Linked DNA regions of Homo sapiens. The protein of the gene in region 2 purifies or fractionates together with the protein of the main gene of each other region. This does not show direct contact. Each region holds a gene or a part of one and is shown on either strand. Other genes may lie near its edges. The genes, in order: TUBA8, SLC67A2 and ACADSB.

The links.
Region 1: the proteins of SLC67A2 (region 2) and TUBA8 purify together in Homo sapiens (affinity purification with mass spectrometry; one large-scale study listed by BioGRID and IntAct). This does not show direct contact.
Region 3: the proteins of SLC67A2 (region 2) and ACADSB purify together in Homo sapiens (affinity purification with mass spectrometry; one large-scale study listed by BioGRID and IntAct). This does not show direct contact.

The regions. Positions count from the first base shown.
Region 1 is NC_000022.11:18,127,717-18,130,089, reverse strand, and holds part of TUBA8 (tubulin alpha-8 chain), read right to left. Parts: intron 1-2,373.
Region 2 is NC_000002.12:102,713,969-102,717,009, reverse strand, and holds the end of SLC67A2 (major facilitator superfamily domain-containing protein 9), read left to right. Parts: 3' UTR 1-2,380; downstream 2,381-3,041.
Region 3 is NC_000010.11:123,050,383-123,054,043, reverse strand, and holds part of ACADSB (short/branched chain specific acyl-CoA dehydrogenase, mitochondrial isoform 1 precursor), read right to left. Parts: intron 2,996-3,661; coding exon 2,858-2,995; intron 984-2,857; coding exon 884-983; intron 350-883; coding exon 279-349; 3' UTR 1-278. UniProt on the Homo sapiens protein: Short and branched chain specific acyl-CoA dehydrogenase that catalyzes the removal of one hydrogen from C-2 and C-3 of the fatty acyl-CoA thioester, resulting in the formation of trans-2-enoyl-CoA.

The DNA.
Region 1 (2,373 bases), on a different chromosome or scaffold from region 2:
GTGTTGGCGTTAACCAGGCTCTAGGTTTTTGGGAATTGGGGCTTCTTAGAAGAAAAGCAGGGTCTCCAATCCAAGAAGGTTGTTGAAGGTCTTGCCAAGTTCTGGCAGCATGGCAGGTCTCCCAGGCTCAGCCCAGACCCGTCTTACAGTGGTGCTGCTATCCTGGAAATCTCTCTTCTTCCCAACACACGTCCCAAACCAAAGCCAACCCCAGGAACCATGGGAAACTGGGACAAGTCTAATGTGGCAAACCGTGACATTACTTATGAGAACTATAGTGATGTCCTCAGCCACCTCTCCCACTGAGACCACCACATTTTAATCGCCAGTCTCTTAAATCCATAGCTTTAAAATGCACATCCTCCTGAGGGGCTGGTGTGGGAATGGCAGCCAGCTGTGTGGCAACATGGGTAGCCAGGCAGCCACTGGACCCACAGCAGCCGTCATTCCTCTTAGGCACAGGTGGCATCTTGGAGGTGGAGGTGATACTGGGAGAGGGGCAAAGTGGGGAAGGGAAAGGCAATGTATATGAATTTGGCCACATCACATACATTGCTAGAACTGAGCCGACTGCCATAAACCTTGTGCCTGGGCCAACCTGTTCTCCTCTAAGTGCTAACATCTCTTGACCTGAGTCAAGTGGGGACAAGTACTGTTGGAGAGAATGCAAGAAGATGAAGTTTAGCAGCATCCTCTCCAGGGAACATACTTTTCTTAGCTTATGCTAATGCTACCATAATGATCCTTCAGGACATAACTCCAGAGCTTCTGCTTTAAGGAGAGAGAATGAGGGGACATTTCCGCTTTGTTAATTTCCCCATCACCCACCATGTCTCTCATTCATTCTCTTTTTTCCCCATTCATTCTCCTACTAGCTGGTTGTTTGTTTCCATTTGAAAAAGAAAAAAGAATTTCATTTTTTGGAAGACCTTGACTGGTTTTGCCAGGATGATTAGAACTGTCACATAAAAAATAGGCATAGTCTTGGGGGGAAATTATATATGTAGCTAGAAGGATAGCAGTGAAAAGGAATGCTACACTCCTCACTCAGCAGAACAGCCAGGTCAAAGCCTCAGACCCATGCAGGGCAGCTATGAGGCCAGCACGCAGCTGGTGCCTCACACTTGTAACTCCCGCCAAGAAAACTGAGGCATGCTCATCTCTTCACCTCCAGCAACTGAGACAAACCCTGACACACAATAGGTACCAGTAAAACCTCTGAATGATTGAAAGCATGACTAGGGGCCAGGCTTGGTGGCTCACGCCTGTAATCCCAATGCTTTGAGAGGCTGAGGCAGGTGGATCACCTGAGGTCAGGAGTTCGAGACCAGCCTGGCCAACATGGTGAAACCCCATCTCTACTAAAAATACAAAAATTAGCCAGGCGTGGTGGTGCATGCCTGTAATCCCAGCTACCTGGGAGGCTAAGGCAGGAGAATCACTTGAACCCGGGAGGCAAAGTTTGCAGTGAGCCAAGATTGCACCACTGCACTCCAGCCCGGGCAACAGAGCAAGACTCCATCTCAGGGGAAAAATACAATAAAAAATAAAAAAAGAAATCCTGACTACAGGGCAGTAGTTAATGTGAATGTGGTAGCTGTTATGATGGCAGAATCTGACAAAAGACCATGGGTGGAGTGGCTGAGCTGTTCATGTGCACAGCCAGGCTGCTTGCCTGCCGGTCCAGCTCAGAGGGGTGACTTCTACCATTCAGCATTCCTGGTCCTGGGGCCCCAGGGTCTACCCTCGCTATTTTGTATCTCCCCACTGACTCTCTGAGCCTGGCATTTTCCAGACTGCGGGCACTTGGTTACCACCAGCCACACGGCTTGCTGGTTTTTGCTTACTCCTGGTTAATGGCAATGGAAAATAGCAATCATAGAACAACTATAAAAGTATCTTATTACTCCAAATTGATTAAGATGTGCAGGATAGATATTTTAAGTTTTCAAAATAAATTGGGAGAACACAGCTTTTTGTTAGAGAGAGGCATCATACTCCTCTGGCAACTGGAATAATTTGGTTAACTCTAAAATTAAAATGGCCACAAAATCATGCTGTACAAAGAAGTGTAAAATATCCATTAAAACTAACTTTAGGTTGGAGGCCAGGCGCGGTGGCTCCTGCCTGTAATCCCAGCCGAGACGGGCAGATCACAAGGTTAGGAGATCAAGACCATCCTGGCTAACACGGTGAAACCCCGTCTCTACTAAAAATACAAAAAATTAGCCGGGTGTGGTAGCAGGCGCCTGTAGTCCCAGTTACTCGGGAGGCTGAGGCAGGAGAATGGCGTGAACCCAGGAGGTGGAGCTTGCAGTGAGCCTAGATCGCGCCACTGCACTCCAGCCTTGGTGACAGAGCGACACTCCGTTT
Region 2 (3,041 bases):
TGCAAACACAAGCATTCTGTTGATCAACGGAAATATTTTGATGTGCCATTTCTTGTCTAAACAAGTTTCATATACAGCACCGAGGGGGCCACGAGAGGCAGAGGCCCAGACAGAAGGTGAACATAGCCTTGCAGGGAGACATATGCCAGGCAGGATGACCATTGGGATTGCATCAAGTATTAATCAGTTACTTAAGGGCTTCCTGTCAGACAGTTGAAGTTCACATTCCTTTTACTTTTCTTAATTAGTCCACTAGGATGGTATGCCTGTTTTCAACTTAACACATGCATACTTGTAAATATTTTAGTATGCTACAGTAATTTGTCATATCTTTAATATTTATTGTTTGTAAAGCAGTAAACATTTCTGTATTTTAGAAGTCATGGAGTAAAATCAAATATTTATGATAAATAATTGGAAGTATGTTTTAGTTTGAAGATTGTCCTTTTTCCTATCTTGCTGCAAGGAAAAATGGACTTCTGATTAGGTTTTACAATTGTGAACTTTTATGTAAATGTTAAGTGCTTTCGAGGAGACCAAACTATTATTAATATATAAAATGGCCTTGCCCTTAAGGAGCAAATTAAATCTCATGGAGATTAGACTCAAAAGGCAATAAATAATCGAGGGTTTATGCAATGAAATAGAATTTCAGAAGAGTTTGGATCTCAAAGATTGTCCTTCACTCTCAGAAACAGGCAAGTTTCTTAAAAGCCCTTATAGTCGTGTTTTTATTTTAAAAATCGTAGCACTTTATTTTTGAAGTTTAAAAAGCCCATAAACTTAATGAGTCTTTATAATCAGACACATGGAAATATAGAAAACCAAAGACTGATCTTAGAATATAGAGTAGAGAGACATGTTTGTTATTCTCCACTAGTGACTTTAGTATTTTGTTATGTGATGTTTTTTAGGTGCACCTTTTCTCATGACTCCTTTTACTTTATCTAATGTCTTCCTCTTTAAAGTGTGACCCAGAGACCAGTAGCATCAGCATCACCTGAGACCTGTGAACACTGAAGCTCCAGCTCAGACATGTTGGGGACCATTTTAATAAGATACCTAGCTGATTTTTTGCACAGCAAACTTTGAAAACCCCTGGTCTAAGGGGTAGTATTTGTATCACTTATGGAATATAATCTCAGGGAAATTAAATCTGCTCAATTGACATTTGTGGTGTTTCATTTTTTAAATTCTCTTGAGTAACTTCTGTAGCCCTTTCCAGTGTGTCAGGTTGAGCCACATGAAGTTGCTATTTTTGTAAGTCAAAAATATCTTCATAGGGTGCAACTCACTATTCTATGGAATCTTATTTTAGGAGTATTGAACCTTCCTGAAATGTCTTTGAAGGAAGTGTCACCCTTTCCAACACTCTGCCAGCCATAACTGCTTGGGAACAGGTCTCCAGGATTTGGGTTCCATAGAGCAGAAGGTAGGCCTCTGCCCTCATGTCTAGAGGGATGAATAACATTCTGAAAAGGTACAGGGTGTGTCTAGTCACAGGAGTCACCTGCAAGGCTCCAAACTCAGGCTGGATGGCCCCTTGGGGAGTGAATTCTGCAAGAGTTGCACCTGGGGCCAACAGAAGGAGCTGGAATCACTGATTCTGTATCCTGGCTACATGCCTTAGACCACAGGAACCAGACTCTGAAGCACCACAGATGTTTCTGTGAACATCTGGAGTTGGGAATCACTGAGTTAGATCAAGAATGGATTCGGCTGCCATGCTCGGGTTGAGATTGTATTGACGGATGAAGGGGAATGACGGAAGAATTCCTGCGGTAAAGTGCTGTGAAGACACTCCTGTTTTAGAAAGAGCTCTCTAGCCGCAGCAAGGAGGATTAACTGGAGGCCCAAGGAGTAGTCTGGACTTTGGGGCAGTAACTTTAGGGGGGCCCTGAGGGAGAGCTGGTCGCGAGGACAGGGACAGCAGGCAGAGGTTGTGGCCCACAGGGCAATCGCAGGAGAGGTTGTGAATAATTCCCAGGTGATGAGTGTGCAGCTTTGAGGAATTTCAAAGGGTTGCTTGGCGTCTTTTCCTGAAGACACTTCTATAAGGTATTTAGAAATCTATCAGGAGTGAGAATCAGTCCAGTCAGAAAATTTTAGGCATTTGGGCAACTGCATTCAGAAAACAGCTATTTATTTGGAATGCATAATAAAAGCCATGAGACTGAATCTCCATGCCTCTTTGCCCCCTAGTAGCCTTCAAGAAGTCTCTAAAACAGGGTTACCACAGATTTAGCCAGGATGATGTGTAGCAGCTTTTCTTGGAACAGGTTGATGGATTAAAATAACTTTTTTTCAGCTCTAATGTTTTTTTCTTGAATTTGCCAGTCACATGATAATTTTCTTCAAAAATAAAACTTTATAATTGTAATGAGGAACTGTCATTTATTCTTATAAGTTGTATTTTTAGAAGTCACTGATGTGTCTTGCTACATATTTCAATTCAGGATCCAGAAGTGCTTTGAAAAATGTCATCTCCAGTATGCTAGAACACATCTTAATATTAAAAACAAGGCTTTGGCTTTTAAAACCATTATGCAGATACCAAATATATATGTAATCTGACATTTATACTGAAGGCCAGTAAGTAGAGGACAGTTGATCCTTGAACAACACAGGGGTTAGGAGTGCCAAGCCCCCAAAACGGTAGAAAATTTGAGTGTAACTTTTGACTCTCTAAAAATTTACTACTAATAGCTTACTGTTGACATGAAGCCCTACCAACAATATTAATAGTCGACTGACATGTATTTTGTGTGTTACATATATACTGTATTTTTACAATGAAGTAAGCTAGAGAAAAAATGTTAAGAAAAAGAAAAATAATATTATTAAGTGGAAATGGAATCATAAGGGTCTTCATCCTTGCCACCTTCATTTTGAGTAGGCTGAGGGGGAGGAGGAGAAGAAGGGATTGATCTTGCTGTCTTAGGGGTGGCAGAGATGGAAGAAAATCCCCGTTTAAGTGGACCTGTATAGTTCAACTCTGTGTTGCTGAAGGGTCAACTGTACTTTTAAGGTAACATCTCACA
Region 3 (3,661 bases), on a different chromosome or scaffold from region 2:
ATATATATATGTATGCGTATACAGCTTTAAAAACAGTTTTGGAAAAAAATACAGGTGCTTATTTCCCAAGTTTAAAAGTGGATCTCCTGTGCCTAAGTTAAACAGCCTGAAAAGAGAAAACCAAAAAGGCCAACACCAGGACCCTGACTAAGGGCTTCATTAAAATATTCGAATGCTGTGGAAGTTTATTCCCACGCAAGGCACTTACTCCCAACAAGACACAACCGTTTAAAATTTTACAGCAGTGACACCAGGGAGGGGTCCCACTCCTATAGACGTCAGTATTCTGCATCGATATGCTTTGCAATGGTGTTCAACTGGATGTTGGAAGCTCCTTCATATATCGTACCTTAAGCAAAAGGAAGCAGAAGGAACAATGAGGAGTTGGCGCATGGTTAAGACAAGAAATAGCTCTATAAACATCACCTCTGCGCTTGCTATAAAACAGTTACTAGTCACATCACTTCATGTCCCCTGAATATGGTACTATTTCACAGTAATTTTGACTAAGAGATGACAATTTTCCATTTGGTTTCTCGATGTCCAGGATCAGTATTAAACTGACTAAAGGTGTAAACAAAAGTTGAAGATTTTGATTCTTCAACAATTGATGCATAAGCTCAGACTGTTATTTGTGGCAGTTTTACTAAAAAGCCTGTTGAGGCATTTAAAAAGGCAATTTGATATTTTTTAAAAATATAGAACAATTTTTTTTGAAGGACGAGGTAAGAAAAAAATCCAGCCACATAAATAGAGCCACCAAACATATACTGAAGAAATTAAAATTGCTTTTACCTAGGAAAAAAACGACAAATAAAACAGCCAAAATACCTACAGAGGCAAATAAAACAAAATAAAATGTAAAAAAAAAAAATCTATTTACCAATCTTTGCATCTCGGAAGTATTTCTCCACAGGGTAATCTTTGGTGTAGCCTACTCCCCCCATCCACTCGATACATTTACTCGTTGTTTGTCCTGCAATCTACCAAAAGCAAGTGCAAATCACACACTGAAACCACATAACTTATACATGATAAACACTTCTGGGTAACATTTTCAGCAACATGGATTTACTGTTAGTGGCACTGGAAGGACTAAAGTTATCTTCTAAACTAGCATTGTCTCTTCAGTCCCATTCTCCATACCATTTCTGTAAAACATCCTATTAATTCACAGAATCCCCATTTTCTTAAGAAATTAGAGCATTGTTCACATGAATCTGCATGCTGAGAGATATCATTTATTCAGGAAATGTTTACTGGGGGCCTAACGGACGAGCTAAGGGACATTTCAAGCTGAGGACCAACACGTCGAAATCCTCCAAGGGGAGAATGAGCTCTTCAACTTCCAGCCCCTGAGACAGCCAGTGGGCTGGGATCGGGGTGAAATGTGAAAAGAGAATGGAGGAGCGAGAGACCCTGCAGAATGGCCCCTCAAGGACGTCCACATCCTAGCCCTCAGAGCTGTGAATATGCTGCCTTCCATGGCAATAGGGACTCTGCAGATGTGGGTAAGGACACGAGATGGAGAGATTACCCTGAATTATCTGGGTGGCTGTGATATAATCACAGGGATCCTTATAAGGAAAAGGAGGAGGCAGGAGAGTTAGTCATGGAAGGTGACGTGACCATGGAGACAGGAAGCAGAGTCAGAGAGAGATCTGAACATGCCACATTGTTGGCTTTGAAGATGGAGGAAGGGGCTACGAGTCAAGGAATGTGAGCAGCCCCTAGAAGCTGGAAACAACTGTCTGCCAGAACCACAGAAAGGCAGCCCCTGTATTCCAGTGAGACCCATTTCAGATTTCTGACCTCTAGAAGTGACAGAAAATGAAACTGCGTTGTTTTAGGTCCCCGACTTTTTGGTAATTTGTTATAGCAGCAATTGGAATCTAGTACAGATAGAGCTCCATTTGTTGTGAGAAGCCACTGAAGGGTTAAAGCTGGAAGGTGACATGGCCTCACTGCCACTTTGAAAAAGGAGAGAGGCTGGATGGGAGGAAGCACCAGGGACCAGGAGGGCAGTGAGGTGACTGAAGTACAGAGGTGGCAGTGGAGAGGGAGACAAACACACCATTTAAGGAATCTTTTAGGGGTAGAATCATAGGAAATGATGCTGGACTCAATGTGGGGGGTGAGGGAAAGCAGGGTGCCAAGATGACGCTCAGGTTCTGATGGTGAAGCAGAAGTTGGACATGTTAGTCTGGAATTCAGAAAGAAGTTGAGGTAGGATATTTAATTTATGGGCTGGAGAGGTTAAATGAGAATTTAAAGCCATGGAATGAATAAGATACTGCTGAGGCTACGAAACAGCTGCCCAGTGATTTGGCTAAATTCTCTAGCCTCAGTCTAATGTGTTAGCTCTAGAAAGCAAATGTATGAGTAGAAAGTTTTAGACAATCTTTTCTTGGTGTTTTAAATCTGATTTGTTCACATGATGGACCCATCATCTTCCACGGCATTCACTTTGCCCGAACTTGACACCATAGGCATGACACCCTCATTCAGAGGAGGCTCAGCCATGGATTTGAGATGGGTGGTCTATCTGAGCTGGGCTACTCACGAAACATGGAGACCTCACAGAACTGAAGGTTTTCCTATGGCAGTTTGAGATGGGTGGTCTAGCTGAGCTGGGCTACTCAACGAAACATTGAGACCTCACAGAATTCAAGTGTTTTCCTATGGCAGTTTTCCTTTTTTGCTTTTCTATTATAAGAAATAAAAGTCCATGTTATCTTAACTTGAAAAACAACCAAAGTACAATCAACATTCCCAAGAGAAAATGTTAATAAGTATATATCTGAAAAAAAAAAGGCTGAATTACTTTTTCCTTTTTTTTTTTTTTTTTTTTTTTTACCTCTGATGCATAGTATTTGGCCATTGACGCTTCTTTTATGAATGGCTTTCCAGCTTCTAAAAGCCTAGCAGCATTGTATGTTAGTAATCTTGCAGCTTCCAGCTGGGTGGCCACGTGAGCCACTTGGTGTTGGAGGCCCTGTAACAGTCAGGCCCAAGTTAGAGAATTATGATTTCAAAAAAGCAAGCACCTCAACCTCAAAGTCCTGCCTAGATACACAACACTGACAGACTCAAAATACACCCCAAAGGAAATTTACATTCACGTCTTTTAAATACTTTAAAATGAGTAATCTAAAATGAAATGTGACACTATAAGTATTGTTAAATCCTCTTTTCCTAGAAAAACTTCAAAGTTCATGTAAGTCTTCATGATTTTCAAGATTTAAATAGTAAAGTATAACAAAGTTAGGTTTAAAAACTTGACTGTTATATTTAATAATTATTTCAACTCTCTTTTGATCAAAATTGAGCTTAAATGAAATCCTGGCACAGCAAAACTTTGAATATATTCTTTATTTGCTTGAGTTAAGAAAATTTTGATTTTTCATATGGCTTCCAGGCATTAAAAAATGTTAGCTACAAAGTAATGAAGAATATTTGAAGCACCAATTACTACCACCCTGAAATTTTAGAGGGTGATTAGGTCCATACTAAATGTTTGCCAATGAAAGAAACAACAGTTAACTTAGTGAGCCAGAATACAAACATTAACATTTATAAACAATTTCCTGCAAATAACAGGCACAGATGTTTACTACAAACTGAAATGTTTCTCATGCCTAACCTATCCATCCACCCAGAT